Linked DNA regions of Homo sapiens: all the other regions are linked to region 2. Evidence: fine-mapped expression QTL. A gene starts in region 2. Each other region holds a variant in brackets. All regions are shown on one strand. Distances are between the middles of the regions.

The links.
Region 1: its variant is fine-mapped to the expression of TBCD in whole blood (INTERVAL, PIP above 0.99).
Region 3: its variant is fine-mapped to the expression of TBCD in whole blood (INTERVAL, PIP above 0.99).
Region 4: its variant is fine-mapped to the expression of TBCD in CD8 T cells (Kasela 2017, PIP 0.95).

Annotation. Positions count from the first base shown.
Region 1 is chr17:82,914,270-82,922,401 of GRCh38, forward strand. It overlaps TBCD (tubulin folding cofactor D), which reads left to right. Exons shown (of 39, transcript NM_005993.5): 24 at 6,287-6,349; 25 at 7,232-7,308. Among named protein-coding and RNA genes, the nearest start is that of ZNF750, 78 kb to the left of the region's middle. RefSeq lists an enhancer at 5,589-6,788. The variant T/C (reference allele first, on the strand shown) is at 4,966.
Region 2 is chr17:82,747,631-82,755,762 of GRCh38, forward strand. It overlaps TBCD (tubulin folding cofactor D), which reads left to right and starts at 4,435. Exons shown (of 39, transcript NM_005993.5): 1 at 4,435-4,747. The coding sequence starts at 4,564. It overlaps FN3K (fructosamine 3 kinase), which reads left to right. Exons shown (of 6, transcript NM_022158.4): 5 at 1,225-1,347; 6 at 2,787-3,566. The coding sequence ends at 3,125. RefSeq lists silencers at 3,627-3,986, 4,677-4,996 and an enhancer at 7,343-7,637.
Region 3 is chr17:82,925,605-82,933,736 of GRCh38, forward strand. TBCD (tubulin folding cofactor D) reads left to right here. Exons shown (of 39, transcript NM_005993.5): 28 at 796-887; 29 at 1,582-1,719; 30 at 2,301-2,384; 31 at 3,509-3,667; 32 at 3,758-3,896; 33 at 4,918-5,039; 34 at 7,054-7,131. Among named protein-coding and RNA genes, the nearest start is that of ZNF750, 90 kb to the left of the region's middle. The variant A/G (reference allele first, on the strand shown) is at 3,726.
Region 4 is chr17:82,543,388-82,551,387 of GRCh38, forward strand. All of the region lies in intron 1 of FOXK2 (forkhead box K2), which reads left to right. Among named protein-coding and RNA genes, the nearest start is that of FOXK2, 28 kb to the left of the region's middle. The variant T/C (reference allele first, on the strand shown) is at 4,896.

The sequences.
Region 1 (8,132 bases), 170 kb after region 2:
TTGTTGGGGGTGCTGGGTGCAGGGTGGTTTCTGTCTGCCTCTCTCTACCCCCAACTCCAGCTTTCCCACCCTGCCCTCTGCTCTGGGGCACGTGTGCTGTTGGGATGCATCCCTCAGGGTTCACGGCAGGGTGTGGATTGCTGGGGGGCATCGTGGAGAAGGGCATCTTTATGGGAGGCATCCCTGCTCTGGGCCCCCTGCCGGCCTCCAGCTGTGTCTGCACCATGAGTGTGTTTGCTGGAGTGCGGTGTTTGCACTCCCTCACACCGCTGAGTGCAAACGCGGCACTCCTGCACATGTCGCCTCGCACCGTGGCGGGCGTGTCCCGTGGAAAGCTGCCCATGCTGCCCACGCCCTCCCTGGGGGCCCCTTGGCTGCCTGCACTCCCCAGCCGTGACCTCAGCTCCCGGCGCCGGCCCTCCTTGTGCAGCTCCTTCCCCTCCATGGCCTTTGCTGGCCCCAGGAGACTCTGGCCTGCAGGCTCTGAAGCCGGCTGTGTCCCTGGTGATCCTGACTGAGCCTTGGTGTCAACTCAGGTTTTTTTCTCCTCCTCGTTCATTTTTACACTTCGTAGGAAATTATTTTCCCTTTCAGCTTTCAAGTAGGAATAGTTCAGAAGGGGAAATAGTTCTGCATAGCGTCTGTGGTCTTGGCCCCGCATCTCCCAGTCCCACATTTTTATTTTTCCAAAGGCAACCCTTTCAGTTTTTTAGCTGTCTGTTTTCCTTGCTTCTGTATTTCTGAGTTCTGTATGTACGCAGCTGTTTCCTGATATCCTTAGTTTTAGATGTGTTCTTTCAAGTGAGACAAGACTCCAAGCTCTTGTCGGGGTGAGAAATCTGCGGGTTCACGGGCTACATGTGGGAGACGGGGAGGGGCTGCTGGTCACTTTCTCACCCAGGCCAGAGGATGGCGCCCTTACCCCCGAGGACGCCGGCATGTCGGTGACATGCCGCCCGCAGGAGCATCAGGTGCGCCCTGGCCGCAGGTGCCCCGGAGGTGTCGAACCGCAGATTTCTTCAGACGTTTTTTGCACATTTTGTGGGAAAAGTGGCTCAACCCTTGGGAGTCGTCTGCGTCCCCATATCAAAGAAATGTCATACAGGTTGGCCTTTGTCGTGAATATTCACGAGAGGAGATGAACATCCTGGATGTCCTCAGCGTGGCCTGAACTGAGCTGCTTCCCCCGGTGCCAGGAAGATGAGCGTCCCCTTGTCTCCGTCTTAGTCTCAGTGGCTCTTGCATTTCATGCTTTAGAATCAAAGGAAAGAAACAGGAACTCTGTTTAGTGAAGCAGCGATGAAGGAGGGGTTTGTCAGTCAGGGTGGACTGCGTTTTGCTCTTGAAACAATCCCCAAGTTTCAGTGTCTTAAAACCACAGGTGTTTTTTTATCCTGCTCACATGTGGATCACCGAGGGCAGGGGCCGGGAGGAAGGGGGTCATCTGGCTCACAGCCTTGCACCAGAGGCGTCACGAGAATCAGGAAAAGTTCTCCTCTCATGCCGAAGACGGGAGGGAAACCAGAGGGACTGGTGAGCCTTGAGTCGGCCACAGGTGTGTGGAGGATCGTGACTTAGCAAGCCGGGGACACGCTGTTAATGGACTTCCTGCTGTGGGGGTGAGGGCTCCGTGCTCCATCTCTGATGCCCTGTACACACCTGCCACCTCCCCTGTCCCCTCAGCAGAGACATGGCCGGTGCTGTCGTGCCTTTCGCTTTTACCTGTATCTTAAATCACACAGGAGTTCATTCGGATTTACCTGTACAGATACCCTGTTCTCTTTCTTGTTCCGTGGGAATTCACTGGGATTTACCCACACAGCCACCTGCTGCTTCTCCTTCTTGTTCTGTCCTGCATTTCTCACCTTCTAAGAGGACCATTTTCTCTTTGCCTGGAGAACACTCTAGTGTTTTCCATAGTGTGTGTCTGCTGGTGGCACCCTCTCGTTTGTTTATACCAAAATGGCTTTTTCCACTTTTTTTTTTTGAGACGGAGTCTCATTCACTCTTGTTGCTCAGGCTGGAGTCACAGTGGCGCGATCTCGGCTCACTGCAGCCTCCATCTCCCAGGTTCAAGTGTTTCTCCCGCCTCAGCCTCCCGAGTAGCTGGGATTACAGGCATGCGCCACCGTGGCAGGCTAATTTTTGTATTTTTAGTGGAGATGGGGTTCCACCATGTGGGCCAGGCTGGTCTTGAACTCCTGACCTCAGGTGATCCACCCACCTCGGCCTCCCAAAGGTGCTGTTTTTTTTTTTTTCCCCACTTTGATTCTTAAAGGTTATTTTTGCTAAGAATGAAACTTTAGTTTGCATTTATTCATTCGTTTGTGTTTTGGCACTTTAAAGATAATAGTCTCTTGTCTTCTGGAGAGGTTAGCTGCCAGTCTACTTATTACTGTATTGGAGACAATCTTTTAAGTTTCGCTGGCTTCTTTTGAGATTTTTATCTTTATTTGGTTTTCAGCACTTTTACCGTGATATTCCTAGAACAAGTTCCCTTTGTGTTTATCTGACTTGGGGCTCTAGGGTTCATACTTGTTCCATAATCTGTATTTTCTGTCGATGTTTTGTTCACTTTAGAAAAATTCCTAGCCATGATCTCTTTGAACATTGCTCACTGGCCTCTCCTCTCCTTTTGGGACTCTTATTACCCACGTCTTGTCTGGATCACCGCACTTAATTCTTTACGCCTCCTTACACTCCCTCCTCTGGTTTTGTCTTATTCAGTTTGGACTTTTTTTTTTCTTTTCTTTTCTTTTTTTTTTTTTTGAGTTGGAGTCTTGCTCTGTCACCAGGCTGGAGTGCGGTGGCACAATCTCAGCTCACTGCAACCTCCGCCTCCCGGGATTAAGCGATTTTCCTGCTTCAGCCTCCTGAGTAGCTGGGACTACAGGCATGCGCCACCACACCCAGCTAATTTTTGTATTTTTTGTAGAGATGGGGTTTCACCACGTTGGCCAGGCTGGTCTCGATCTCTTGACCTTGTGATCTGCTCACCTTGGCCTCCCAAAGTGCTGGGATTACAGGAACATTTTCTTTGATTTAAATTTCATTGTCACAAATTCTTTCAGGTGTGCCTTATCTGCCGTTAAACGCATCCTTGAATTTTTTTATTTTTCAGAACTTATTTTTTATAGTTTTCATTTTTTTCACATCCTGGAACATATTAAGCATGGTTTAAAATCTTTGTTTAATGTCATCATCTGGAGCCTCTGTGGCTGTTTCTGAAGGACGGTATATCATACATGAAAAGCATCTCCACCAAGCTGCAGGAACAAGACATGACAGAAATGCTTTGAGGTCTGCAATGTTCTCCTCTCCCAGAGAGACTTGATGTTGGCTCTTGACGGGAGGCGGGTGCTTGCTGTCGGGGTCACCTCCATTGGGTTTTGGGACGTAGGAGGGGTCCGTGCTGGGCTGGCCCACGTTTTACACCTATTTCTAGGTGTGGTCCTCTGGGTTCAGAGCCTGTGGTGAGGGCTCTACCGCTTCTCCCTTTGGTCATCCTGGACTCCCGTTCTCCTGCTAGCTGGAGATGCTCCTGGATGCACTGTTGGGGGTTTCTGGTTCTTGTGGCGCCCCCTGGAGTCAGCCGTGAGCCGGGGAGAGTTGGCCCCCGCCGCTCTGTCCCTCTCAGGTCTTCGTGAGCTCTCTGGTAACTGCAGGCACTTCCTGTGTGTTTTCATTTTGTCTGGCTTTTAAAAATGTCTTAGTGGAGGGTTGGTCTGCGTTATCTAGTCTGTTAGTTTTTAAAAAATATTCTTCATTTCGAAATAATTATAGACTTACAGGAAGTTATGAGATTAGTAATAGAGCCTGGCTGTGCTTCCCATGCTTCCTCCGCGGTGACTCCGGGTATGACAGTGTTGGAGCCGGGACTGCGGTGTCGAGGCCCTGCCTCTAACTGGACTGCAGGCCTGTGCGGTTTCGTGGCTTCATGTGTGTGTGGAGTGGCCATGTGTGTCTAGTTTCGTGCAGATTGATGCCCTGTGTAGATTTCTGTAACTAACTCCACACTCAAATCAGAAACCTGCATCCTTCCCACAGAGACAGCCCCTGCCCTTTGCATTCTCACCCTGCCCCCCTGCCACCAGTCTGTCCCTTCTAGAATATGCCATGATCGACTCGTATGGTCGTGGCATTTCGAGGTGGGCATTTTCTGTGAGCGTGGTGCCGAGACCCCATCCAGCTGTCCATGTGTTCACAGTTTGTGCCTTCCTAGCCCACGGTTGGGTTTTACCAGAGTGTGTTCGACCAGCACTCAGTAGAGTACACTGGGGCTATTTCTATCTGTTGCTGTTGTGAACAAGGTTGCCAGGAATATTCCTGTGCGAGATGTGGGTACAAGCCTTTTCATGTCTACCACTGAGTCCCGTGTGCCGTTTCGTGAGAGGCTGAGGCACCGCTTCATTCCACCGCTGAGCCCCGCGTGCCGTTTCGTGAGAGGCTGAGGCACCGCTGAGCCGCGCGTGCCGTTTTTAACTTGATTATAAAATACATTTAAAGTTCACATGCAGGTGCATCTCCAAGAAAATTATTTTAAAAACTAGTTAAGACTTTCATTTCCCAGTCCTCAACACACATCAGAGCAGTACTCTGTTCAGAGCTGAAAGGATTCGCGCTGGGACAAAGGCGTGTCACTTGAGTGAGTGATGGTGTCACAGGTGCCCACGTGGAAGAAGGTAAAGTCGTATCTAAAACTAAATGTGAGAGTAACTAATAACTTACGCATAAAAACTACCATCATAAAAATCCTCGAAGAAATTTTAGGAGACGTTGTAGGACAGTGTCAGTCTCTGAAGAAAACTTCTTAGTTTAGAAATTTTCAAATCTGCGCAGAAGTAAAGAGAAGTAGTTTACGGGGGGGGCCCAGAGTCTCGCCCGGCGCTTCCTTTCTCCTCCCCTCCTCTGAGTTTAAAGAAGACCCTGAATGTCAGGTCCCAGCAGCCCCTCGCTGGGTTTTTC[T/C]AACTTGTGGTAAGAACTGGTTTTCTGGGGTTTTTTGTTTCTTTTTGTTTCCCCCCTCTTGGCATGTAATCCCCAGCTAACAGATTTTATCATAATAATTCCACAAGGTAGAAACAAAAGGAGATAATTATGTTGGGCCTTATATTGAAGAATAGACCATGTGTAGGTTGGTAGGGAAAACGGAGATTGAGAATAAACGTCTGTTCTACAGTCGAAAAGGTAAAAAGTTAATTAGTGTACAAAGACTAAATTGTAAAACTGCCTGTGACGAGGTAAAGGATCCAGTATGAAATGGGGCAGAGCAGACGTGTGGGCATTTCATGCAGAAGAGGAGCAGACTCACGTGGCCGTGGACGGTGAGGGTGCCGGCCTCACCTCGGAGGCATGGAAGTACCAGGTTACTTCACATCGAGAGGACCGTTTTCCTCTTTCCAGTCGGCTGCGGTTGGCACTGAAGAATCTTGGTGCTGACAGACACAGAGCAGGGTCTCTCGTGGAACAGGAGTTGTCTGGTCTGTTCAGTTTGATGAGTGGCAGTATCTGTGACGATGGGAAGTGTGTGTGTGGTCCCTGTCCTGTGTGCAGGGACGCCAGGTGGACCGACGGCCTCCGCATCTGTAGCACGGTCAGGCCTCCTTGTTCACGGTGACAAAAAATGGAAGGAGAGTTTAGTCCCTCAGGAGAAATAGCAAATACCATGAACAAGTGTGCAGCAGGCGTCTGCGAGTGGGTTCCGTTGTTAGGTAGAGACGGTGGGAGCTAGAGCAGTGTGTGGCCGTGGGAGCTGCTGATGCTGTCCAGTCGTCTCTGTCTCGTGCGTCCTGGCCCCCTCGTGGCTGGTCAGGGCCACGTTTCTGGTCATGGAGAGTGTGAGTGACGAGCTATGTGGGGAAGTGACAGGCATGACCTGTGGTCTGGAGCATTGCAGGTGATGGCTGTCTGTCGCTTGGGTCCTGAGTGACAGGTCTAGGAGCAGAAGCCGCTATGCTTCCCGTACAGCCTGTCACAGGGACGTCTGCAGCTCCCTGACAGGCCGGCCCGGCTTCTCTGAAGTGCACGTGGGCTCACACATGGGCCTTCTGCCACGTGGCTGGGTCTGCAGCACTTTCTTCAGGCTGCTCAGCGGAGGAGGCGTCTTGGGCTTCTCATGGTGGTTCTGAAATGGTTCTGGGATGTTTCCAGCCCTGGCAGCAGGGTAGGTTGGGCGGGTGAGGGGCAGGAGCTGGCCGCACACAACTCAGAATGTGGCAAAGGCAAGCCGCTGTGGCAGGCGCTTTTAGAAAAGTAACATTGCGTCTATCCTTTTTTTTTTTTTTTCCAGTGTGTGTTTTAATAGAAAAGTTGTCACTTTCCAAAATGCCCTTTAGAGGTGACACCGTAATTGGTAAGTGCTTTTGTTTTTAATAATAGCATTTTCTTACAGAATGACTTCAGATTAAAAGGTAAAAATGAACCTGTTAGGATGGGGGCGATAAACGATTATAGCTTAAAGGTTCAAGATATTAATCGGATACGTTGCCTTGAAGTTGTTACAAGAACCTGCTTAAATAATGGGTACCCACCGCCCTCTCCCCCCAACACAGGAGGGCCCTTCCCCGCCGTCACCTCAGTACCCCCACCTCCTCGCTTCCATGCCCAGGGCCCGGCACTCTGGGTCAGTTCTTCTCCCAGGCAGACAGTCGGGAGCTGCAGCCACCCAGGCCCTCGTGGACCAGGAGCGTGCCGGCCGCCGACACCACGGACCCTGTGGGCAGAGGCGGCTCCAGTTCCTCAGCAGCCCCCCACACTGGGCTGCCAGAGCACAGTGAAGGGAGCCCCCAGGGCTGTGGTGTCCCGGGGCTGTCTCAGCAGCCTCAGAAGTTAGGACTTTTTTTTTGTTAATTGAATAGCCTTCACATTTGTTGCTTGTGCAGGATCTAATTGAGTTAAAGATTTGGGTTTATATTGGTGGGAGCCGGGGGAGACCGTTTGAAGGAAAAGATTTAGGGGTAACAAAAGAATAAAAGTTTCCCAAAATGTGATGTATAAAAATTTACAGAATGCTGGTATTTCCCTCAATAAGAGCTTACACAATTTAACAGCCATGAGAGGAAGGGGCCTTAGACTTAACACAACGTGGAGAATGTTCACTTTGGCTTTTCCACAGATTCCTCTCAAAGGTTACCATCGACTTTAAGATTAGTATTAATAGAAGCTGTTTTTGCTGTTGTTTTTGATTTCATGGTGTTTTTGATTGCCTGGGTACGCTAACTTGATTTTTTGACAGATGGTTGGCAATGGCTGATAAATGACACTTTGAGACATCTCCATCTCATCTCAAGTCACTCCCGCCAGCAGATGAAGGTACAGTGAGCATGGGCGTTCCCGGCCGGCGCTGTGGCGGTGTTAGTGTGTTAGTCACGGATGGTGTTTGTGTTGGCGACTGTGCATCATGAGGCTGTCCCTGCAGTAGCCTGATAACTGACAAATGGGGGCATAATTCTATTTGGAATCCCGGATGGTAGCGTCTACACGGTTTATAACCAGAAAATCCAATACAGCCATTGGAATCCGAATGTTTAATTTTTTATTGCTTCTGGCTGTTTTAATTATAGTTACCTTTGAAATACTTTTTCTGCATCAATAGTAACTGTGCTCTGTTGAGTTCCGTGTCCTGTAGGATCTGAGGTTTGGAAACTCCCTTTATGATGCTCCTGTGCAGATGAGAAAACAGCACCCCAGGACCTCTGCTCGCACACATTGACCTGGTCATGTTGTGTGGGTGCCAGTGTGTGTGTGTGTCCCCGGCCACCTGCCCTCCCCTCCCGTCCTGGGGGTTACAGGTGGACTTTGGACTCACAGAGCTGTAACGCTGATCTCATTGCATAGATAAGAAACCATGGGCCCGGCGCAGTGGCGGGTGGATCACTTGAGGTCAGGAGTTCGAGGCCAGCCTGGCCAACATGGTGAAACCCCATCTCTACTAAAAATACAAAAATTAGCGGGGCGAGGTGGCGCGTGCCTGTAATCCCAGCTACTCAAGAGGCTGAGGCAGGAGAATTGCTTGAACTTGGGAGGCGAAGGTTGCAGTGAACCGAGATCACGCCATTGCACTCCAGCCTGGGTGACAAGAGCAAGACCCTGCCTCAAAAACAAAAACAAAAACAAAAACAAAAAAAACCATGGTT
Region 2 (8,132 bases):
CCTCGTGATCCACCCACCTCGGCCTCCCAAAGTGTTGGGATTATGGGCGTGAGCCACCAGGCCTGGCCTTCCTATTGATTTCTAATTGAATTTGATTATACTTTGCATGCTTAAATTCTTCTCAATTTATTGAGATCTGTTTGCATGGAGAGAGAAATCCTACTCTATTCCTCTTCTTATAGGCCACTAATCCTATTGGATTAATAATTCACCCTTACGATTTTATTTAACCCTAATTACCTCCTAGAGGCCCTTCCTCCAAATACAGGTATATTAGGGGTTAGGGCTTCAACGTAGGAACGGGGGTGGGCACCATTGAGTCAATAGCAGGATATGGGATTTATCTATTTTTCCTGCAGTTCTTTTACGTATTTTGAAGCTGTGTTATTAGAGGTGTAGGCATTTAGGATTATTATGTTCATTAGTCGACTCCCTTTGTGAAATGACTATATTTGATTTTCTTTGCTTTGAAATCTACTTTGTCTTGTATTAATGTAGCCACTCTAGCTTTCTTTTTTTTTTTCTTTTTTTTTTTGAGATAGAGTTTCACTCTTGTTGCCCAGGCTGGAGTGCAATGGCGCGATCTCGGCTCACTGCACCCTTTGCCTGTGGGTTCAAGCGATTCTCCTACGTCAGCCTCCCAAGTAGCTGGGACTACAGGCCCACGCCACCATGCCCGGCTAATTTTGTATTTTTAGTAGAGATGGAGTTTCCTTATGTTGCCTAGACTGGTCTTTAACTCCTGGGCTCAAGGGATCTGCCCACCTCAGCCTCCCAAAGTGCTGGGAATTGCAGGCGTGAGCCACTGTGCCTGGCCTCCAGCTTTCTTTTGACTAGTGTTAGCATGGTATATCTTTTCTATCCTTTCAAGCTTTTTTTTTTTTTAGTAGATAATGTCTTTTTGCACATAACTTATTGTTGGATTTGCTTTATTTTTCCAACCTGCCAATCTGTCATTTACCAAGAGTATTTATTTTTGACATTCGTATTTAATGTGCTTAGTCATATAGTTTTGAGTCTGTCATCTTGCAATTTGTTTTTTGTTTCATCTGCCCTTTGTTCTCTCTTTACCTGCCTTCCTCTGGGTTGAGTATTTTATGTTTCTGTCTTACCTCCTTTGTTGGCTTACTAGGTATCTTTGCTGGGTTTTGAATGGTCCCTCTAGGGTTTAGGCAGCACTTGGCTCCGAATTGCAACAGTGGCCTCTTTTCCCTTGTTGTCCAGGTGAATGAGTGGCAGGATGACTGGCCGACCTTTTTCGCCCGGCACCGGCTCCAGGCGCAGCTGGACCTCATTGAGAAGGACTATGCTGACCGAGAGGCACGAGAACTCTGGTCCCGGCTACAGGTGGGCACGGCAGTGACTTCTCTGGGAAAGAGCTGGTCCTCTCATGATCCCGCCGCATTTGTGCGGGTTCATCTGTAAAACGGAGCTGGAGCAGGGAACACTGAGTCCTGGAGCACACATCAGGGAGGAAGGGGGGCAGGGGCGGGGGTTCCCCCAAAAGGGAGTCCGAAAGGAGTGAGGAGTGAAGACACACTTGGCTCCTCGTGCCCCTCTCCACTGCTAGGTCACCAGGTATTTAGCCTCAGACTTTCCTCATGTGAAACACAGGTGCTTGTAAATGGTGGTGTTTACCATGATTACTGTTCTTACTATCAGTAACACTTGTCCACTCCATCGTGTTCCTCTCCCATGGGAAGATGTGGGTACCAGATGATCCAGAATGACTGATTTCAAAACATAACTCTCGGCCGGGCACAGTGGTTCACGCCTGTAATCGCAGCATTTGGGAGGCCTAGGTGGGCAGATCACTTGAGGTCAGGAGTTTGAGACCAGCCTGGCCAACATGGTGAAACCCTGTCTGTACTAAAAATGCAAAAATTAACCGTGCATGGTGGTGCATGCCTGTAATCCCAGCTACTCAGGAGGCTGAGGCAGGAGAATCACTTGAACCCGGGAGGCGGAGGCTGCAGTGAGGGGAGATTGCACCATTGCACTCCAGCCTGGACGACAGAGTGAGATCCTGTATCAAAAAGAAAAAAAATCAAAATATAACTCTCAAAATGTTAAAAAAGAATGTGCATGTCAATCCAGAGTGAGTATACATCAAAGAGACTTGAACTCATTAATGAAGAAACTAGGCTGGGCACGGTGGCTCAAGCCTGTAATCCTAGCACTTTGGGAGGCCGAGGTGGATAGATTTTACCTGAGGTCAGGATTTCAAGACCAGACTGGCCAATATGGTGAAACCCCATCTCTACTAAAAATACAAAAATTAGCCGGGTGTAGTGGCGGGTGCCTGTAATCCCAGCTACTCAGTAGGCTGAGGCAGGAGAATCACTTGAATCCGGGAGGCGGAGGTTGCAGTGAGCCGAGATGGCGCCACTGCACTCCAGCCTGGGTGACAGAGCAAGATTCCCTCTCAAAGAAAAAAACAACAAAACCAAACAAAACCTGCAGACATATATGTGTAGCGAAATAAAAGTGGCCAGAGTTTGCTAAGGTAGCGCAACACTGGTTCCTATTCTGTGGGTCGATTAAAACTATAACCTCAGAGGTTCTCCACTGTGTGGGGATTCTAGACCTAAATTAGGAGGAAATCCTAAGTTAGACAAAGCTAGACTCCCCTGAAGTCAGGTGGCCCCTATTTCTGGGCTTGGCAGGCAGTGCTGGGGCTGGACACCGAAGCAGATCGCGAGTGGGCTTTGCCTTATTTCCAAGAACGAGGTGATGAGACCGGGGCTCCCAGAGGCCAGCGATAACTGCAGCCGTTGCTCTCGTAGGTGAAGATCCCGGATCTGTTTTGTGGCCTAGAGATTGTCCCCGCGTTGCTCCACGGGGATCTCTGGTCGGGAAACGTGGCTGAGGACGACGTGGGGCCCATTATTTACGACCCGGCTTCCTTCTATGGCCATTCCGAGTTTGAACTGGCAATCGCCTTGATGTTTGGGGGGTTCCCCAGATCCTTCTTCACCGCCTACCACCGGAAGATCCCCAAGGCTCCGGGCTTCGACCAGCGGCTGCTGCTCTACCAGCTGTTTAACTACCTGAACCACTGGAACCACTTCGGGCGGGAGTACAGGAGCCCTTCCTTGGGCACCATGCGAAGGCTGCTCAAGTAGCGGCCCCTGCCCTCCCTTCCCCTGTCCCCGTCCCCGTCTCCGTCTCCCCGTCCCTGTCCCCCCGTCCCCCGTCCCTGTGCCCCCGTCCCTGTCCCCCTGTTCCCGTCTCCCCGTCCCTCCGTCTCCATCCCCCCGTCCCCCCATCCTCCTGTCCCCGTCCCCCCGTCCCCGTCCCTCCATCCCTGTCCCCCGTCCCCCTGTCCCCCTGTCCACATACCAATCCCCCTGTCCCCGACCCCCCATCCCCGTCCCCCATCTCCGTCCCCGTCCCCCCTGCCCCGTCCCCGTCTCCGTTCCCCCGTCCCCATCCTCCATCCCCGTCTCCCATCGCCGTCCCCCCGTCCCCGTCCCCCGTCCCCGTCCCCCCTGTCCCTGTCCCCCTTCCCCCGACCCCTCCCAGATCCTGGGGACCAATAAAGCCCGCAGCGGGTCTCGGCTGGCGTCCTGCGCCTCGTTCCTCCGCTCGTGGGGCTGCTTTCAGGGCCAGACGCACGGCGAGCTGTGCACGGACGTTTTTGCGGCGATTCAGGGGAAACGCACGCGGACCCGGTAGCCAAGGCCAAAGTCGGCGCAGCGCCCACCGCGGCCTCCGGGCCCCGCTCCCGCTCCCGCTCTGGGGCGCGCCACCACTCGGCGCGGGGCCCGTGTGATCCGCGCGGGTCCCAGCGTGGCGCGAATAAGTGTCAGGGCGGTTGGCTCTGAGGGGTGGGTCCCGGGGCTCGCCTCGCGCCCCCGACTGCGTGCTCAGGCCCCGCCCCTCCCCGTCCACGCATGCTGAGGCTCCGCCCCGCTCCGCGGTCCCCCGGTCCCACCCGCCCCCGCCCCGCCCCCGCCCCGCCCCCCGGCGTGTTGTGGCTCCGCCCCGCTGTCTCCGGCCCCACCGCAAGCCCTGCCCCTCCCACCCACGCGTGCCCGGGCCCCGCCCCCGTTGCGCGCAGCCCCGCCCCCTATCGCGTGCTCAAGCCCCGCCCTGGCGGCCCCCGGCCCCATCCCGAAGCCCCGCCCCCCCGCACACCGCCTGCTCAGGCTCCGCCCCGCTGTCCTCCGGCGGCGGCCTCACCCCGCAGCCCGGCCCACCGCGTCTCAGGCCCCACCTCCTGTCCTGCCCCGCCCACCGCGTGCTCAGGCCCCGCTGAGCGGTCCCGGCTCCGCTCGCGCCCTGTGGGGTCCACGGCGCGCTCTTCCAGAGCCTTTGGGACCCGTGCCCGCTCGCGTCCTCAAGTGCACGCGCCGTCCCGCGCGCGGTATTTTGGCGGCCGACGCGTTCCGTAGCGAGGCCGGCGAGTGGGGTCGGAGGTCGCGGGGCGGGGCCAGCGTCGGTTGCCGCCTTAGCGGGCGCCTCCTTTTCATCCCTCATCCTTCATCCCTGGCTTTCGCGCTCTAGCGGAGTGGGATCTGCGAACACGTGAGGCGGGGGCGCGGTCCCCAGGCTGCCGAGATGGCCCTGAGCGACGAACCGGCCGCGGGCGGCCCCGAGGAGGAGGCGGAGGACGAGACACTGGCCTTTGGCGCGGCGCTGGAAGCGTTCGGCGAGAGCGCGGAGACCCGGGCGCTGCTGGGCCGCCTGCGGGAGGTGCACGGCGGCGGCGCGGAGCGCGAGGTGGCCCTGGAGCGGTTCCGCGGTGCGTGGGCGGCGCCGCGTGCCCGCTTCCTCCCCCGGCCCGGGTTCGGCGCGCTGAGTGCACTTTACCGGGCGGGGACCGCAGCCCGGCGGCGCCGGCCGCTCTGCGAGGGCTGCCGGTGCGCGGTCCCGCGGGCCGTGGTGGGGCGCGGCCTTCCTAGGCGGGAGAGGGCCACCCCGGCGCGGCGTTAGGTGCACGGGGCAGACGCGCGCCTCCCTTGGGGGGACCGTGGCCCGCGGAGCGCCTGCTCTCGCACGGGGTGAAGCCTCTGCGGCCTCCCCGGGAGGCGGGGTGCAGAAGCCCTCCGTCCCCCGTCTCCGTCACTGGAGGAGGTCCCTGGGCTGGGGAGACTCGGGCCAGACCCCTCCGGACAGCTGGTCAGCCCTGCAGTGTGGACTCCCAGGCTTGCCTCCACCGAGCGCGGTTTCTGTGAATGTTGTGTGGACAGGGAGATAGGGAATGAGAGAGGGGGACGCAGGGAACAAACCTGCTGCAAACAAAGCGCGCCTCGGGTGGGGAGGGCAGCAGCCTGTCCGTTCCGTGGACGCCGTGGACAGAGCGGGCTGGCCGGGTCCGTGCCTCTGCAGGCGGGGTGGGGTGTAGGTACCCCTGTGGAGGCCATTCGATGAGTCTAAATTCTCCGAGTTCAGACCCACCTTTACCGCTGTCTATAATGGGTTATTTCCAAACAAGTCCTTAGGAGCTCATAGCTAAGTAGTTACATGGGGTTTTGTAATTCAGTAAAATCATCTTTGTAGACCCTTTGAGTAAGAAGAACTTTTGCATTATTTGGCCTTCCTCATTTTAGAATGACAGCGCTTTGATTTTAGGAGTCAGGCAGGGTGGGGGGCCTTGTGGGAGGAGTGCGGGTTCGGCGTCAGATCCTCCTGCCTGTGAATTCTGGCCCTGTCGCTTGGACCTGATACTTGATTGCCTGTTTCTTCGGGTGTAAGCTGGGGCGGATAACGATGCCTCTCGTGCAGAACTGTTCTGAGGGTGAGGGACCCTCATCCAGGGACCAGTGAAGCCAGATTTTTTGTTCCTGGTGTAACAGCCCAATGGCTTCTTCCTTTTTTTTTTTTTTTTTTTTTTGATACGAAGTCTTGCTCTGTTGCCCAGGCTGGAGTGCAGTGCAGTGGTGCGATCTTGGCTCACTGCAACCTCAACCTCTCAGGTTCAAGCTATTCTCCTGTCTTAGCCTCCCGAGTAGCTGGGGCTACAGGCGCGCGCCACCACGCCCGGCTAATTTTGTATTTTTAGTAGAGGGGGTTTCACCATGTTGGTCAGGCTGGTCTCAAACTCCTGACCTCAAGTGGTCGCCCGACTCAGCCTCCCAAAGTGTTGAGATTACAGGTGTGAGCCACTGCGCTCGGCCCCAGTGGGTTCTTTCTGCGGGCTGCCCAGATAGAGTTGATTTGTCAGGGCAGGGGAGTTGCCATGGAGAAGATTTAGTTCACGCAGAGCCGGTTGAAAGGGAGACTAGACTAGAGGTTTTTTTTTTTTTTTTTGAGGCGGAGTCTCACTTTGTCCCCCAGGGTGGAGTGCAGTGATGAGATCTCAGCTCACTGCAACCTCCACAACCTCCACCTCCCAGGTTCAAGTGATTCTCCTGCCTCAGCCTCCCGAGTAGCTGGGACTACAGGTGCGCGCCACCACGCCCACCTAATTTTTCGTATTATTAGTAGTGACGGGTTTCATCGTGTTAGCCAGGATGGTCTCGATCTCCTGACCTCGTGATCCACCCGCCTCAGCCTCCCAAAGTGAGCCACCACGCCCGGCTGGAGTTTTATTATTACTCAGATCAGTCTCCCTGAGAATTTGAGGGCCAGGGTTTTTTAGAGGTAATCTGGGGGAAAGGGTGGGGGTGGCTGATTGGTTAGGGGTATACAATCATAGGGGAGTCGGAAATGATCCTCCGTGATGTGCTGAATCGCGTCTGCGTGGGGCCCCAGGAGCAGTGGGCGGGTCCAGGTGGAGCTATCATGGGTCCGTGGATCCTAGTGTAGGTGTCAGACATGGAAACAATCTGAAAAGATATCTTTAAAGGCCAGTCTCAGGTTCTGCAATAGTGACATGGTCTGCAGGAGTAACTGGGGAACTCGCATGTCTTGTGATCTCAAGAATAATGGCTGGCAATTAGGTTACGCCTTAGCGGAATTCAGGCTCCTCTCCTCCTCCTAGCCTGGTGGCCTCTCATTAACTTTACAAAGGCAGTTGAGTTTTGGGGAAGGGCTCTTAGCATTTAAACTATAAATTAAATGTCTCCCAGAGGTAGCTTGGCAGCTTGAAGACTAAAGGCATGAGGGGGTTGCCTGGATCAGATCTGCCCCATTGCCATAATTTCCTCACAGATCACTTTTGCAAAGGCAGTTTTGCTGGGAAGCAGTGGGTGTGTTCAGATGTGGAGGTGGGAGCTGCCGGATTGGACAGAAGCAGTTTCAGCTGCTGAGAGGAGGAGAAAGCGGTGGTTCAGGGTCTGGGAGGTTGTGAAGAGCTGGCAGCTGTGTGGAAGGGAGCAGTGCCTGGATATGTCAACCAAAAAGTATCTGAGACGAGTCTCAATCAGTTTAGAAGGTTAAGGGTGTGCCCGTGAGGCAGCCTCAGGAGGTCACATGTCCCCAAGGAAGTCGGGCTACAGCTTAGTTTTACACGTTTTAGGGAGACGTGAGACATCAATCAATACCTGTAAGATGTACATTGGTCTCGTCAGGGAAGGCGGGACATCTTGGGTGGGAGGGCGTCCAGGGCATTGGTGGATTCAAATATTTCACGATTGGTGATTGGTTGAAAGAGTTTATCTGAAGACCTGGAATCCATAGAAGGGATTGTCTAGGTTAAGATAAATTGTGGAGACCAAGGTTTTTCTTATGCAGATGAAGGTTCCAGTTAGCTGGTTTCAGAGAGAATAGATTGTAAATGCTTTTCATCAGACTAAAAAGGTACCAGACTTAGTTAATTTTCTCTTGGATCAGGGAAAAGACCTAGAAAAGGAAGGGATTCTCTACAGAATGTAGCTTTTCCCAGCAAGAGACAACTTAGCAGAACCATTTCAAAATATGTCAAATATATTTTAGGGAAAAATATTTTGATTTCTTTCAGGGCCTGCTGTCTGTCATGTGATGCTGTACTAGAGTCAGGCTGGAATTTGGTGTCTTATTGCTACTTAAGATCGGTTTTAATGCTAATACTGATCAGCTGTGCCTGAATTCCAACGAGAGGAGGGTATAATGAGGCCTATGTGGACCACTCCCCACAATCCCTTAATATCATGAGGCCTGAACTAGTTTTTCAGGTTAAGTTTGGAATGCCCTTGGCCAAGAGGAGGGGTCTGTTAGATGGCTAGGGGGCTTAGAATTTTGTTTTTAGTTTACAGGCATGTTTGGCA
Region 3 (8,132 bases), 180 kb after region 2:
GCCCTTCCCTCCCCATGGGATCCAGCCTTGGCACTTCAGGATCTGCAGCTCCAGACGGACTCCTGCCTGTGTGGCGGGTGGGCCTCGCAGCCGCCATGCCATCTAAAACTCGCATGTGGGGGTTTATCCAGTTGAAACACAGATAAATGTGAAACAGGATCACTTGGAGATATGACAGATGAGGTTGTCGGGACCCAGCAGCTTCCTTTGTCAATACCCCAGGTCTCAGCGTAGGACAAAAGGGGGGGACCTCAGGTAGGGTGTGGCCAGACCCCCAGTGACACCCTGGGGTGGGGGCTGGCCGTGGAGAGGCTGGAGGTGACCTCTCCCCGGGTGTCCTTCCTGGGTTGTACTGGGGGCCGTGGAGAGGCTGGAGGTGACCTCTCCCCGGGTGTCCTTCCTGGGTTGTACTGGGGGCCGTGGAGAGGCTGGAGGTGACCTCTCCCCGGGTGTCCTTCCTGGGTTGTACTGGGGGCCGTGGAGAGGCTGGAGGTGACCTCTCCCCGGGTGTCCTTCCTGGGTTGTACCGGGGGCCGTGGAGAGGCTGGAGGTGACTCCTCCCCGGGTGTCCTTCCTGGGTTGTACTGGGGGCCGTGGAGAGGCTGGAGGTGACCTCTCCCCGGGTGTCCTTCCTGGGTTGTACCAGGGGCCATGGATGGCCGTGAGGAAGGTGGTGCCAGGAGCTGCCTATCTCATGGTGTGGGGTCTGTGGCTCCGGGCCAACATTGCCACCTCCCTAAAGAGTGCACTTTGTTATAGCTTATGGTTCTTCTGTGATTCTTTATTGCTTTCCAGGTTCTCACAGGTTTAAGAGCAGTTACCCACACTTCCCCCGAGGACGTAAGTTTTGCTGAGTCCAGGAGAGACGGCTTGAAGGCCATTGCGAGGTGAGTCCCAACAGTTCCTCCCTAAAGTCGTAAGTCTCTGAAAGGCCAGCAGATGAACGCTAAGGGGGATGTTTTTGCTCAGAGGCAGGACTTATGATTCTTCACTTCCTAGGTTTCCTCTCTTCCAGAGGATCGTCAGTCCCAGCTGCTGGAGGCTCTTTCATTCTCTTGCTGTCATAGTCGTAGTGAATGTTAAACTTCTTTAGGGACACTGGGCCCCTTGGAGAATTGGAGAATGTGTCCTGGCCCAAGGTTGGCAAAGAGGAGCTGACCCTGCCAGCCAGTGTTTGGAATGATCTCTGCACTCGTTGACAGACACGCACCTGGGGCCACGCCATATGCCCTCTCCTCCCTGCAGGCACACAAGAGGAGCAGTCCCGCGGGGGCCACGCACGCCCCCTTCTCTCCTATGCCAGCATCCGTTCCCTCTAGTCAGGGTGGGAAGTGGGAGGGACCAGCCGCAGGGGGCGTCCCCATCCACCTTTCAACCGGAGAGACGGCAGAGCGTGACCTCGGGGAAGCACGTCCCACGTTCCATACATGTGGAAGGAGCTCTGTGTTTCTGATCTACCCGAGGGTCCTGGACTGTTCTGAGCGTGTCTTCTCAGGATCAGGAACACACATCAGCCCTCTGCGATGTGGAAGATGAGGCTCACCGATGTTTGTTTGTTAGCTCACACATTTTAAATTTCAGGATTTGCCAGACTGTTGGTGTGAAAGCAGGAGCCCCAGACGAAGCTGTGTGCGGAGAGAATGTTTCCCAGATTTACTGTGCGCTGCTGGGCTGCATGGACGACTACACCACGGACAGCAGAGGGGACGTGGGCACCTGGTACGTACGTAGCAGTGGGTGAGCGCTTCTTCTGAGAAGCCCATCTATTCCGTGGAAACTCGGAGGCCCCGGGCTTTTCTGCAGGGAGAAATCTTTGTAGATTTGTGCCGTGTTTTGCGTTTTAAAGGCTCTGGGGAAGATGACCTGTTCTCTGCTCCCGGGTGAGCCTGCGTGGCAGGGCTTTGCAGGTGCTTGTCCAGCCCGTCCTCAGGTGTTGGGCCTGTGTCGTCCTCGTTGACAGGGTGTGAGGGAGGACGCGTCTTCAATGAAAGGCTGCCGGCTGCTTACATTGGGTTTTGCCAACATTTCTTGCTGTAGTGGGATTGATAACCCCTGAAACGCCTGTGTGTGTAGGATGCCTCGGGGCCCCGGTGTGTGTGGCTGTGGGTGGCTCCCTGCACACGTCCCTGTAGCGCACAGGGAACCTCTGCAGGCCCCGTGACTCCCTGGCAGCGTGCCTGGGCTCTGTGTGGGGTTAGTCACGGGTGTCGAATTCACACAGGCTGCCGGCGTGGTGGGCAGAACCAGGGTTGGAACCCCCCTCTCAAGCTGGGTGTCTCTGCCTCTCCTTGTCCCATCAGGGTCCGCAAGGCCGCCATGACCAGTCTGATGGATCTGACACTTCTGCTGGCTCGGAGCCAGCCTGAGCTGATCGAGGCCCATACGTGAGTGTCACGTCGCAGCTCTTCTGCATCCTAGAGGGCAGCCCCGAGCTTGGGGAGGCTGGCGGGGCGGGCGGTCCTGGTGCTCAGTGGCATTTGCACTGCTGGGCACACACCCTCCTCCCAGAGAGCCTCTCTGGTCCCTGACCCCAGGTTTGTGCAGGCCCCTCCTCCTGCCCCCATAGCCATGGCGTGAGCTGGGGCCCATCCTCCTCTGCCCAGTGCCCCCAGGACGAGGCTCTGCTCCCCAGCCTGGGCCTCCAACGGTGCTCTGGCCAGTTTGATGACAGCCAGCTTCCCGGGGTAGGGCCGGGCAGGAGGTGGGGACTTCTCAGCTTAGGACCCTGAACCTGGGGGTCTGCTCCTGCCAGGACCAGCTGAGCCATCACTCAGTTCCCTGCACCTGAGGCTGCCATTGGGGCCTGCCCTTGCTGTGTGTCTCTGTCGGGGGCACGGGGTTGTGGGTACCCCCAGGCCCTGCCCTTTCTGTCGGTCTCTCTGTCGGGGGCACTGAGTCATGGAGGTCCAGGCCCTGCCCTTGCGGATCTCTGTCAGGGGCACTCAGTCAGGGGGTCCAGGCCCTGCCCTTGCGGGTCTCTGTCGGGGGCACTGAGTCATGGGGGTCCAGGCCCTGCCCTTGCTGTCAGTCTCTCTGTCAGGGACACTCGGCCGTGGGGATCCCAGGGCCTGATTTCCTTAGTTCTCACCTCTTTCTCTTTCCCCCTCCCCATCTCTTCCCCAGCCCCAGCTTCTCTCTCCCCATCCCCGGCCTCTCTGTCCCCATCACTCTTCTCCACCCGCTCCTGTAATCCTATTTGTTGTCCCTGCTTCAACCCTAAGACCTCATCAGCACGCATGTAACACGTAGCACATGTGTAACAAGTACGTAGCATGTATTTGCTGCGCACCTGTAGGGTTGGGCTCCTGGGATGTGAAGGTAACGGAGTGTGGTTCTTCCGAGCCAGTGTCCTGGTGTCAGCTGCCAACTCAGCCACCATGTCCCGAGGAGCCCGCATGTCCTCGTGGTGCTTGGGCTGGAGTCACGGCTCGGACCGCCTGTGCTCAGTTTACCGCCCGCTCTTAATTTACCGCCCGCCCTTGGTTTACCTCCTGCTCTCGGTTTGCAGCTGTGAGCGCATCATGTGCTGTGTGGCCCAGCAGGCCAGTGAGAAGATTGACCGTTTCCGTGCTCACGCCGCCAGCGTGTTCCTGACGCTCCTGCACTTTGACAGCCCTCCCATCCCCCACGTGCCCCACCGAGGAGAACTGGAAAAGCTGTTTCCCAGGTACTGTCGGGGTGTAGGCCCCCCGTGCTGGCCCCGCAGCCATGGCGAGATCATTGGC[A/G]GCCCGGCCTTGTCTCACTCACTCTCTTGCAGGTCCGATGTGGCCTCCGTGAACTGGAGTGCACCTTCCCAGGCCTTCCCACGCATCACCCAGCTCCTTGGGCTGCCCACCTACCGCTACCACGTCCTGCTGGGGCTAGTCGTGTCCCTGGGCGGCTTGACGGAGTCGACGGTGAGGAGGCGTCGGGCTGGCTGGGGCAGGAGGTGGCTCCAGGAGTGCCTGGTGCTTCCCTGTCTCTTGGGAGCATGTATGGAGCTGGGCCTTTTCTTCCATTGCTTTCTATCTCTCTCGGGCATATTTGGTTAGGGGGTCAGGGGCCCAGTGTCTTCCTCATGACCCAGGAGGCTTAGGGCCTGTGGGATGGTTGAGTCTGATGAAGGTGGGACAGGGCCAGCGCCACTCTCTTCCTGCGGCCGCAGCCTTGGAGCTCCCAGCGTCCCCTCGGGGTTCAATCCTCCAGGACCTGTGTCTGATGCCTGCATGTGGGTACCTGGGCTCCATCAGGTTCTAGATCGGCCTCCGCCCTCCACTTTCAGGGCTCCAGGCCCAGCTTCTCATGTCTGTGGGGAGGGTCTCCAGAGCCTTGGTCTGTGGCTGAGCTGTGGAACTTGAAGGCCTCTCTGCATCTTGTCACTCGTGGCCCCTGCACCTTGGGTCATGACCTGCTTTATGTGGCAACCCTGTGACAGCTGCTAAGTCCTAGAAAACACGTAACAGGACGTGAGGTGCCCTCTGCGCCGTGTGGGCGCGTGCGGGGAGACCCGGGCCCCAGGACGTGAGGTGCCCTCTGCGCCGTGCGGGCGCGTGCGGGGAGACCCGGGCCACATGCGAGCGGGGCCCCGAGACATTCTGCACTCGGGAATTGCGGGGATTATCAAATCCCGCTTCAGTGGGAAACGTGAGCGAAACCCAAGGTGAGTGGCCGCAGCCTTTCGTCACGTGCTCTCCCGCATGTCCTAAGTGAGGGCTCAGGCTGAGCTGCCGTTGCCGAGAGCCTTGTGTCTGCTTCGGGTGTCTGCACTGTGAGTGGCTCCGTGCTGGCGTCCGCACCAGCCGCTTGGGGCCAGACCTTCGCGTCTCTGCAGCTCGGAGCAGTTCTGCTCTTCAGCAGATGCTTGACCGGCTGTAGCCAAGCCTGAGGGGTGGCAGGCTCGGGGGTCCCACTGCCTTCTGAGGTGTCTCCGTGTTGCAGATCCGGCACTCCACCCAGAGCCTCTTTGAGTACATGAAGGGCATTCAGAGCGACCCGCAGGCCCTGGGCAGCTTCAGCGGGACCCTTCTGCAGATCTTTGAGGACAACCTTCTGAATGAGAGGTGAGTGGTGTCTCTTGGGGCCTCAGAGGCGTGAGTGGTGCTGGTGCCTCTCACCACGTTCCCACAGATTCCCGGGGTCTCGCAGGGTCTGTCTGGGGTCTGAAGGGAGAAGCGAGACACACGCTGTACCAGTTGGTGGCTCAGCGAGGAAGATGTGCCTGCAGCATATGGTTCTCCGGGCGGCCAGGCCTCAGCCCCTGCGCCTCCTCTTCTAGCCTCCACATGAGGCAGGGAAATGACCGTTGTGTGTACAATGGACGTAAAGGTAGTATGAGTACAAGGTGGTCCCTGTGTGTAGGAAGGCGTTGTGGGAGCTCCTCCAGCTTGGTGCTCCCACGGACGTGCTTGCGGACGCTCATCAGCCACCCGGCAAGTGAGAGCTCTGTGTTCCTGAGGATGGAATGTCAAGTGAGAAACATCGCTGCTTTCTAGAAGTTTCTGGCTTTACATGGAGGCAGAGTATAGACCCTGTGGGCCTTGACCTCAGAATTGGGAACATCCTCTGGAAGGGTTGTTCCCAGCATGTGCGAGGACGAGGACACGGGCCTGGTGTCCCCTCGGGCGGGGCCTCGGCAGCCTCTCCCATGAGAGCACAGATGCCGCTCTCGGCAAACAGGAACTCGGCCCAGCCATGTTTTCTTTTCTCGTTACGACTATAATCAGCTGCACATAAAGGGGCAGTTCGATCGATTTTGATAGGTGTCCACCCTTAAAATCTTCCCCAGTCAGGACGGTGGGCTCCAGCCCAAGGTTTCCTCCCAGCCCTTCGAGTCCGTGCCCCTGACCTGCGTCACCATAGCCTCAGCCCATGGTCACTTGAGGCGCTGGGCCGCGTGCCGGTCGCTCATTCCTCCGTGCCGGTCGCTCATTCCGCCTTGCCGTTCGCTCATTCCTCCTTGCTGACCAGTCGTGTCTGTTGGTGGAGGCACCACAGTGCATCTGTCTGTGGGCATTTTGGTTGTTGCCGCATCGGGGCTGTTGCTGGTAGAGCTGCAGGCAGTCTGTGTGTGCGAGCCTGTGGGTAGGTGTGCACAGCTGGGCCTCCCTCTCTGTGGGCTGCGGAGCCCAGCTCTCCTGTGTGTTAGTCGGCCTGTGCTAAAGCTCTCCTGATGCTCCTGTCGCCCAGAGGGGACCTCCCCAGCCTCCTTTTCTGTGGGGTAAATACCGAGGCGCCGCAGGCTGGCTCACACAGAGGCGAATGTCTAGCTTTGGAAAGCTGCTGGAGGGTTTCCAGAACGCCCACGTGTCATGTCTTTCTGCTGATGCTGTCTGAGGTCACTCTCACTGGCGCGTTGCTGTTTTATATTCTCTTTGGAGAAGTGTCTTCATTTTTTTCTGTTCTCCTTCCCTGACTGTTGTGGTCTGATCCTCCCTTGTCACACATGTGACTTGAGGGTGTTTTCTCCCTGCCTGTCCTTTCACGCACCGAGCGGGGGCCTCACACTTTCCTCACGTCCCAGCATCTCCCCTTGTTCTCTGAGGCACAGATTTTTCTGGTGTGTCTAAGACAGCTTGCCTAATCCGTGGTCACTGAGATTTTCTGTTTTGTCCTAGAAGATTTATAGTTTTGGGTTGTGTATTTAGACCTGGGACGCGTCTTGAGTGAGGTTTCTTACATGGTATAGCGTCGGCACAGGCACCTTGACGCCCAGCGGTGCCCACCCCAATTGCTGGGAGGGCTCCCCTCTCCGCTGCATTGCCGTTGCAGCTTTGTAAGAAACTGTGGGTTTACTTTGGACTCTCCTGTGCCCGACGTGTTTGCTTCACTTTGCACCAGGGCCGTGCTGTTTCTATCCCTTCCACTTTACCATCATTTTCGAAGTTCAGCGTCAGCCTCCAGCCTTGTTTCTTCTTTCCACAGTTGTTTTGTCTTTTCCTGAAGCTTTGCGTTTCCACGTAAATTATAAAGGGGGCTTGTCGCTTTCCACTGGGATCCTGCTGACTCTCAGCCATTCAGGGAGTTGGGCGTCCTTGTTGCTGGTGTCCAGGGTCTCACAGCTCCTTCTCCCCTCAGGGTGTCCGTGCCGCTGCTGAAGACGCTGGACCACGTGCTCACCCACGGCTGCTTCGACATCTTCACCACGGAGGAGGAGTGAGGCTCTGCTTTTCATGACTTCCTTTCCGATTAAGCCTAAGTAGCTCATGTATTAAAGAAAAAGTCATCAGACACAGAGATCAGAATTCCAGGAAATGATCTTCCAGTGCGTTCTGGGTCAGTTATGGTGACTGTAAATACCGTCATCACAGCTGGCCCTCAAAATAACGCAATAATAACATATTTACATAATGACATATTATGACTGTAAGTGCAGTCAGCCCCATCTGGGGCTGAGGCGGGGGCCCTGCTGTGCACTCTCCCCCCAGCTATCCCACCGGGCCAGGGGTGGGCCTCAGGGTTGTGCTGGGAGCCGCAGGGCCTGAAGGGGCCTCGGCTGTACGGGGATGAGACTCGCAGGGGAGAGGGCAGAGGCCGGTGACCTGGCGAGGACTTGCCCAGGAGATTGGAGCTCCTTGCTTCTGCGCCACGCGGATGCCCCAGGCTGGTCTCAGCTGGGTTGTTGGCTCTGAGTGGTCATCTCGTTGCTGCCATATTTTCTTGCTTCATTGAATTTCACCGTGTTGGGCCAGTCTTTTTTTTTTTTTTTTTTTGAGACAGGGTCTAGCTCTGTTTCCCAGGCTGGAGTGCAGTGGCACAATCACAGCTCACTGCAGCCTCTACCTCAGCCTCCCAAGTATCTGGGACTACAGGCATGCGCTGTAGTCTAATGTACGGCTAATGTTTGTATTTTTAGTAGAGACAGGATTTCACTATGTTTCCCAGGCTGGTCTTGAACTCCTGGCCCCAAGTGCCTGCCTTGGCCTCCTAAAGTGCTAGGATTACAGGTGTGAGCCACTGCGTCTGGCCTGGATATATTTGTATCTGGGGCACGTTGGGTCATCCGGAGACAGCGTGGTCTGTTTTTGGGGGCACTGCTTTTTTTTTGTTTGTTTTGAGATGGAGTCTTGCTCTGTTGCCCAGGGTGTAGTGCAGTGGCTCGATTTCAGCTCACCGCAACCCCGTCCCGGGTTCAAGCAGTTCTCTCGCAGACTTCT
Region 4 (8,000 bases), 200 kb before region 2:
ATCTAAATGAAGGCTTCTTTTAAGGGGCAGACTGATAGCTCAGTGTTGTGTGAGCACCTGCTGTGGGGGTGCCACACCCAGGAGCTGAGCAGAGGTCCACCACAGCTGCCCACTTGGAGCCCAGAGCTTTTGCCTCTTCTGGCAGCTTCTCTTTGCTTGTTTGAATAGTTCTGGGCTCTGCTCTGAGAATGGTCATGAGAAACCGGAGCAGTAGGAAGGCCATGATAGGGAAGAGTCTTTCTTTTATTTTTATTTTTTAGTGAGACAGGGTCTTGCTAGAGTGCAGTGGTGTGATCATGGCTCACTGCAGCCTTGAACTCCTGGCCTCAAGTGATCCTGCTGCTGCAGCCTCCTAAGTAGCTGGGACTACACGCCAGCATGCTTAGCTTTTTTTTTTTTTTTTTTTTGAGACGGAGTCTTCTTCTGTCACCCAGGCTGGAGTGCAGTGGCGCAATCTTGGCTCATTGCAAGCTCCGCCTCCCGGGTTCATGCCATTCTCCTGCCTCAGCCTCCCGAGCAGCTGGGACTACAGGCACCCGCCACCACGCCTGGCTAATTTTTTGTATTTTTAGTAGAGATGGGGTTTCACTGTGTTAGCCAGGATGGTCTCAATCTCCTGACCTCGTGATCCGCCCGCCTCAGCCTCCCAAAGTGCTCGGATTACAGGCGTGAGCCACCGTGCCCAGCCAAGCTTTTTGTTTTTTTTATAGACATGAGGTCTCACTATGTTGCACAAGCTGGTCTTGAACTCCTGGGCTCAGTTGATCCTCCCACTTCGGCTTTCCAAAGTTCTGGGATTATAGGCGTGAGCCACTGCGCCCGGCCAAGCTTTTACTTTGAAAATTCTTTGGCTTTTACATTTTATGCCATGTGCATTTATCATCTGTTAGTGACAACAACAAAAATACTTATTGATCATCTTCTCTGGACAGTAGTTAAATGGATTTATTCTTTTTTTTATGTAAGCCACCTAATCTTCCCCTTAAATTAGAATATTTGTGGAGAAAGTCCTAGGGAAATGGCACTGTGCTGGTACAGTACACACACACACGCCACCCAAAACCGTGGGCCCAGAGATGCTTTGGAATCAGAGCAGACTGGATTTTACAACAGTAGCACAGCGTGTGTACTGGGTATGATTTCTTATTCCCAGCACTGCGTCATCCAACATGTGAGCATTTCTGTTGCTGAACTCATGAATATTCTCACTAAGTGGGCTAATTGAAGGGTATAATTAGTTCTTTCTCAGTTTAGGTCAGAATTGGCTGCCAGATGATTTCAGGTCAGATTTTTTGGAGCTTTTTTGCTTTCTGGAATTGTGGAAAAGGGATTGTGGACCTTTATGGGGCATAGAGCGACTCCAGGCAAGTCGCTGTGGGAGGGGTGTGCAGAGTGAAGTGCTGGCGGGTGGCCGTCCTCAGTGGCTTTGGGACCTGGCTTCCGTCCAGCTCTGTGTCTGCAGTGCTACTGTCTGTCCCCCTTTCCTCTTGGGAGCCAGTGCTGCCCACCCAGGTCCCGGGGGCGCACCCTCTCCATGGTGTGCTCTGTTGCTCTGCGTTTACGGAGATGGAAAAAAATAATTAAAAAAAAAAAAGAATTGTCGATCTGCCCCGTCTGTCCTACTTGAGCTTTTCTCGGACCTGTCATCTGTTCTTCCTTCTTCCCCATTGCTGCTGACCTAGTGGTTTCTCACTTGGACTTCTGGAGGGGTTTCTTAGTTGGTCTCCATTCCTCTCCACTTTGTAAAAGTATCATCTAGACACAGAAAAGTGCACAGATTCTAAGTATAGCTCAGTAAGAACCACTGGTACGGTCTGTTCTAGTGAAGACGTGACGTCATCAGCATCCACCTCTCCCAGCCAGGGCCTCCCACTCCTCAGCTCGGAATTCCTATCCCGAATTCTAAACCATAAATTAGTTTTGTTTGCTTTTGAACTTCATATCCATGAAATTGTACAGAGTCCTTTGTAGGAGACGGTGTTTGTTTTTTATTGAATACTGTGTTTCTGAGGTTAGTCCATATTTTTGCACGTAGCTATTGGCCATTCTCATTACTGGAAAGTAGTAACGTGGATATACAACGATTCAATATTCTGCTATAGGTAGACATTTAAAGTAATTTTATTTGGGGCTATTATGAATAATGCTGTTGTGAATATTCTTATAGTCTTTTTTTTGTTGTTGTTGGAAGGCTTTTTTTTTTTTTTCTTTTGAGACAGAGTCTTGCTCTGTCTCCCAGGCTGGAGTACAGTGGCACGATCTTGGCTCACTGCAACCTCTGCGTCCCAGGTTCAAGCGATTCTCCTATCTCAGCCTCCTGAGTGGCTGGGATTATAGGTACGCACCAGCACACCTGGCTAATTTTTGTACTTTTAGTAGAGACGGGGTTTCACCATGTTGGCCAGGCTGGTCTAGAACTCCTGACCTCACATGATCGACTTGCCTTGGCCTCCCAAAGTGCTGGGATTACAGGCGTGAGCCACCGCGCTTGGCCGATGTGTTCAGCTTTCTTACCAACATGTTGGAAAGCGCTTTGTGCAGTTCATAGCCATTTACACTGTGTGAGATCCAGTTCAGGGTGCCTCAGAGCTGCCTCAACTTTTGACATTTTCTCTCTTTTTTATTTTAGGTATTTTAGCAGGTATTGTGGTTTTAATTTGCATTTCCCTAATGACTAATGATGTTGAAGATCCTTCTATGTGCTTACTTGCTACCAAGCATGGTTGGTTTTTTTTTTTTTTTTTTTTGAGATGGAGTCTCGCTTGGTCGCCCAGGCTGGAGTGCAGTGGTGCCATCTTGGCTCACAGCAACCTCCGCCTCCTGGGTTCAAACAATTCTCCTGCCTCAGCCTCTTGAGGAGCTGGGATTACAGGTGCCTGCCACCACTCCCGCCTAATTTTTGTATTTTTGGTAGAGACGGGATTTCGCCGTGTTGGCCAGGCTGGTCTCAAACTCCTGACCTCAGGTGATCCACCTGCCTCGGCCTCCCAGAGTGCTGGGATCGCAGGCATGAACCACTGCACCCAGCCAGCGTGGTATATTAAAAATACTTTCCTGCACATTAACAAATGTTCACCTCTCGGTGCAGCTCGCCTTGTAAGTGTGGTGGGGAAGCTAGGAGTCTGAGTGCACATGCAGGAGCTCTTCGCTGCAGGTCCCGAGTGGAGGGAGAGGTAATCTGTAGAGTGCCCCAAGAGTGAAGTGCTGCGTCCCAGTGTCAAACAGAGGTAACACCTCGCTTTTCTTTTCCTTTTTTTTAAACGGTGACGGGGGTCTCACCATGTTGCCCAGGCTGGTCTTGAACTCCTGGGCTCAAGTGTTCCTCCCACCTCAGACTCCCAAGTTCAGGGATAATAGGTGTAAGCCACTGAGCCCAACCTAAAACTCGCTTTTAAATAAAGAACTCAGGCCGGGTGCGGTGGCTCACACCTGGAATCCCAGCACTTTGGGAGGCCGAGGCAGATGGATCACCTGAGGTCAGGGGATTGAGACCATCCCGCCCAACATGGTGAAACCCCGTCTCTACTAAAAATACCAAAATTAGTCGGGCGTGGTGGTGGGTGCCTGTAGTCCCAGCTACTCTGGAGGCTGAGGTGGGAGAATCACTTGAACCCGGGAGGTGGAGGTCACAGTGAGCCGAGATGGCACCACTGCACTCCAACCTGGGCGACAGGAGCAAAAACTCCATCAAAAAAAAAAAAAAAGGAAGGAGAAAGAAAGAAAGAATACACTGATCTCTCTTATAGTGTATACTGTCTATTACTACTGATTTTAAAGCTACAACCTTAAGCATCATACTCCCTGTGTTTAGAATATTCAGGGTGTAGTATTGTGGTTCACATTGTAGTATTGTGGTTCTCCATTGTGGTTCCCCGGAAGTGATCAAGGTGATACTTTACATTCAGGGTGTCCAGTCTTTAGGCTTTCCTGGGCCACATTGGAAAAAGTATTGTCTACACTAACAAGAGCTGGTAAGCTGAAAAAATCACAAAAATCATAATGTTTTAAGAAAGTTTATGAATTTGTATTGGGCCACATTCAAAGCCATCCTGGGCTGCATGCAGCCCACGGGCCGTGGGTTGGACAAGCTTGTTTTAAGAGTTTAGGAAGAAAAATAATACTTCTGGTTATTTTTTTCATCCTGCTTAGTTGCTATTTTTCTGTTTTACAGTGTGCAATACTGTAATATAATTTATACATATATTAATATATTGTTGCCAGCTTATTTTTACTTTAAACTTTTTTTTGAGGAATATTTCACATAAAACAAACTTAAGGGTACCTTTCAAAGAGTTTTGACAGCTGTATACACCATGTAGCCGAAATCACAATCAAAATAATAGATCCAGATATTACCCCTCACCCCAAACCTTCCTCTTGCCCCTTGGCAGTCAGCCTCATCCCCCTGGAGAGTCCCAGACACTCAACTCTGTGCCTCCCCTCCCGTAGAAGTGTTTTCTTCCAGGGTTTCATAAACATGGAATCATGTAGAATATACTGGTGTTTGGCTCGCTCTTATTCACATGGTATATTTGAGGTTCATCAGTGTTACTTGTGTGGGCAGTTTTCCTTTGCGATTGCTGGGCGGCAGCTGAGTGGATTCTCTTCTATGGATGTACCCCCATTTGTGGATCCATTCACCTACGGCTGACTGTCTAGACAGTGTCCAGTCTGGGCTGCTGTGCATCACGCTGCTGTGAACGTCTGTGTAGGAGTCACATTTGTGTGAACTGGTGCTCTCACTTCTCTTGGCAGATAACTACAAGTACGAGTGGTGGGGCCAGGTGGTCAGTGTGCATTTATTTCACAGAAAAGCTGACCCACTTTTCCAGAGCAGTTGCACCAGTTTGTATTCTTGCTGGCAGTATGTGACAGCTAGTTGCTCCATATCCTTG[T/C]CAGCACTTGGTTTTGTCAGTCTTCTTATATTAGCCATTATCTGGGTGTGTAGTGGTATGTCAGTATGTGTATTTTTTTTTAATACTTTGGATCATTTACATCAACCGTGGTTTAATTTGCCTTGCTGTTGAGCATCTCTACATGTGCTTTTGGCCATTTCTATGTCATCTGTAGTGAATGACCATTTTTAATGGGTTGTTTACCTTCTTACTGAATATTAAGCTTTGTTTATATACCCTGAACAGAAGTCCTTTGTGAGATAGGTGTATTGTGAATATTTTCTCCCATTCCATCCTTTGCCCTGTTTGTTGATACTGTATTTCATATATTCAAATATTGATTTCTACTTAATTTTTCACTTAGAGGTGTACAGTCAAAAGCATTTGGAGGCTACTGCTCAGCTGAATTAGCAGAAGGAATTGCTGTGGACTGAATAGAGGAAGGAAAGGACCCAGGCGCTGTCCCACAGCCTCTCCCGTGACCTCACCCTGGGGGAGGCATGGGTGTTTGGCAGAGAGCCCTTTTTGGTTTTACGTGAATGTCATTTGGGCGGGTGTGGGGTAGAATGATCTCAAGAGCATTCTCACCTCCGAGGAGCGGTTGCGTCTCGATGCATCGGCACAGGAGGGCTGTGCACTTTCCACTGCCACCACCCGTGAGACCTCCAGAGAGCCTGACCCTGCCATCTGCACTAAGATCCCCAGCTGTTGTCTGGTGATCCAGATGAGAGGACCAGCGTGATAGTTTCTCACAGCAGCCTCTGGCAGGACCTGGAGTGGAAATCTTCCTTAGTCTAAAACACATCCCGAATGACTGAACATTATAGGAGAATGTGTCTTTGTTTTACGAGGCCACTTGAAGTCCACCTCCCTCCTCTTCTGGGTGTGGCCCTTGCCTGTAGCTCCGAGTGTGAGGATCTTAAGTGTGAGGGTGTGTGCTCCTGAGCCAGCCTTTACCCCAACACCAAGTTGCCACACCGAACTGCAGACCTGGCAGCCCTGTCCAGCAACTTCCTTATCACAGTTACAGTGCAGCAAATGGGAGAGGGGCCAAAACCCCCAAAATTATTCTCCTTATTACAGTTACAGTACAGCAAATGGGAGAGGGGGGCCAAACCCCCAAAATTATTCTCCTTATTACAGTTACAGTACAGCAAATGGGAGAGGGGCCAAAACCCCCAAAATTATTCTCCTTATTACAGTTACAGTGCAGCAAATGGGAGAGGGGGGCCAAAACCCCAAAATTATTCTCCTTATTACAGTTGCAGTGCAGCAAATGGGAGATGGGGGGCAAAACCCCCCAAATTACTCTCCTTATTACAGTTGCAGTGCAGCAAATGGGAGATGGGGGCCAAAACCCCCCAAATTACTCTCCAAGCCAAAGGAAAACTCTGGATGCTCGATAGCCACTTACAGAGCTGCTCATCACATGCGTTGTTGGAACACCTAACACTAGCCTCCTGGTTATGAATGTTTCTGGAATCGAGCCTCCCTGATATGTGCCTACAGAAGCGGATCTGCCTGAGGACATCCGCCATTTCCTAATATTTATACCTTAGAATATAGAGCCAGCTTCATAACATGTGGGGTCCAGTGCAGAATGAAAACATGGGACCTGTAGTTGAGAAAGCAGGAAAAGGCCGGGCCCAGTGGCTCATGCCTGTAATGCCAGCACTTTGGGAGATTGAGGTGGGTGCATCACTTGAGCCCAGGAATTTGAGACCAGCTTCAGAAATACAGTGAGACCCCCATCTCTACAAAAACAAAACAGGCAGGTGTGGTGGTACGTGCCTGTAGTCCCAGCTATTCAGGAGGCTGAGGCGGGAGGATTGCTTCAGCCTGGGCTTGCAGTGAGCCATGATTGTGCCACTGCCTTCCAGCCTGGGCGACACTGCAAGACCTTGTCTCTAAACAAACACACACACACACACACAAAGAGCTTCTTTATGTCTTCTGTGGATTCCTGGCCTGCCATAGTGTTTTTAATTTGCCACTTGACTTCAAGCTTTCCCAGGAATACGTGTCTGAAGCAAGGCACCCCTGTTCACACCCCACCAGGGACATTGGACAGTTGTGGGGGAAGAAGGGGGTGCAGGAGCAAGATGGGCTGTGTCCCATTGAACTTCACTACAGAACACCAATTTAAAGATAAATGATTAGGGATTTCAAGATGTTGGCAGTAAGGCATTAAACTCCATGCCTGGCCCTTCTGAGGCGGGCTTTTTTTTTTTTTTTTTTGAGATGGAGTCTTGCTCTGTCCCCCAGGCGGGAGTGCAGTGGCGCAATCTCGGCTCACTACAAGCTCCGCCTCCCGGGTTCACGCCATTCTCCTGCCTCAGCCTCCCGAGTAGCTGGGACTACAGGCGCCCGCCACCACGCCCGGCTAATTTTTGTTGTATTTTTTAATAGAGACAGGGTTTCACCATGTTAGCCAGGATGGTCTCGATCTTCTGACCTTGTGATCCGCCTGCCTCAGCCTCCCAAAGTGCTGGGATGACAGGTGTGGGCCACGGCGCCGGCCCTGAGGTGGGCTTTGTGCAGCTGTGCTGGCCACACAAGCCTGAAACCGGCCTTGTCTGTATGGAAAAGTTCTGTGTCAAAACTAGGTGGTTTCTAAGTCACTGTGAAGCACTGCGTGCAGTAAGCGTGCGTCACTGAAAGATGACACTTGCAAGCCAGTACTGAGCCGGGTCGTTAGGTGTCAAAGCCTGTTTTAAGCTTCGGAGGCTTAGGTTAGAAGATTTGTGCTGAAAGGCCGGAAGTGGTGGCTCACGCCTGTCATCCCAGCACTTTGGGAGGCCGAGGCGGGCGGATCACAAGCTCAGGAGACTGAGACCATCCTGGCTAACACGGTGAAACCCCGTCTCTACTAAAAATCCAAAAAATTAGCCGGGCGTGGTGGCGGGCACCTGTAGTCCTAGCTACTCGGGAGGCTGAGGCAGGAGAATGGCGTGAACCTGGGAGGCGGAGTTTGCAGTGAGCTTAGATTGCACCTCTGCACTCCAGCCTGGGCGATAGAGCGAGACTCCATCTCAAAAAAAAAAATTAAAAAAAAAATAAAAATAAACATGATGGCATGTCATGAGTTTTGAAGGATAAGAAGTT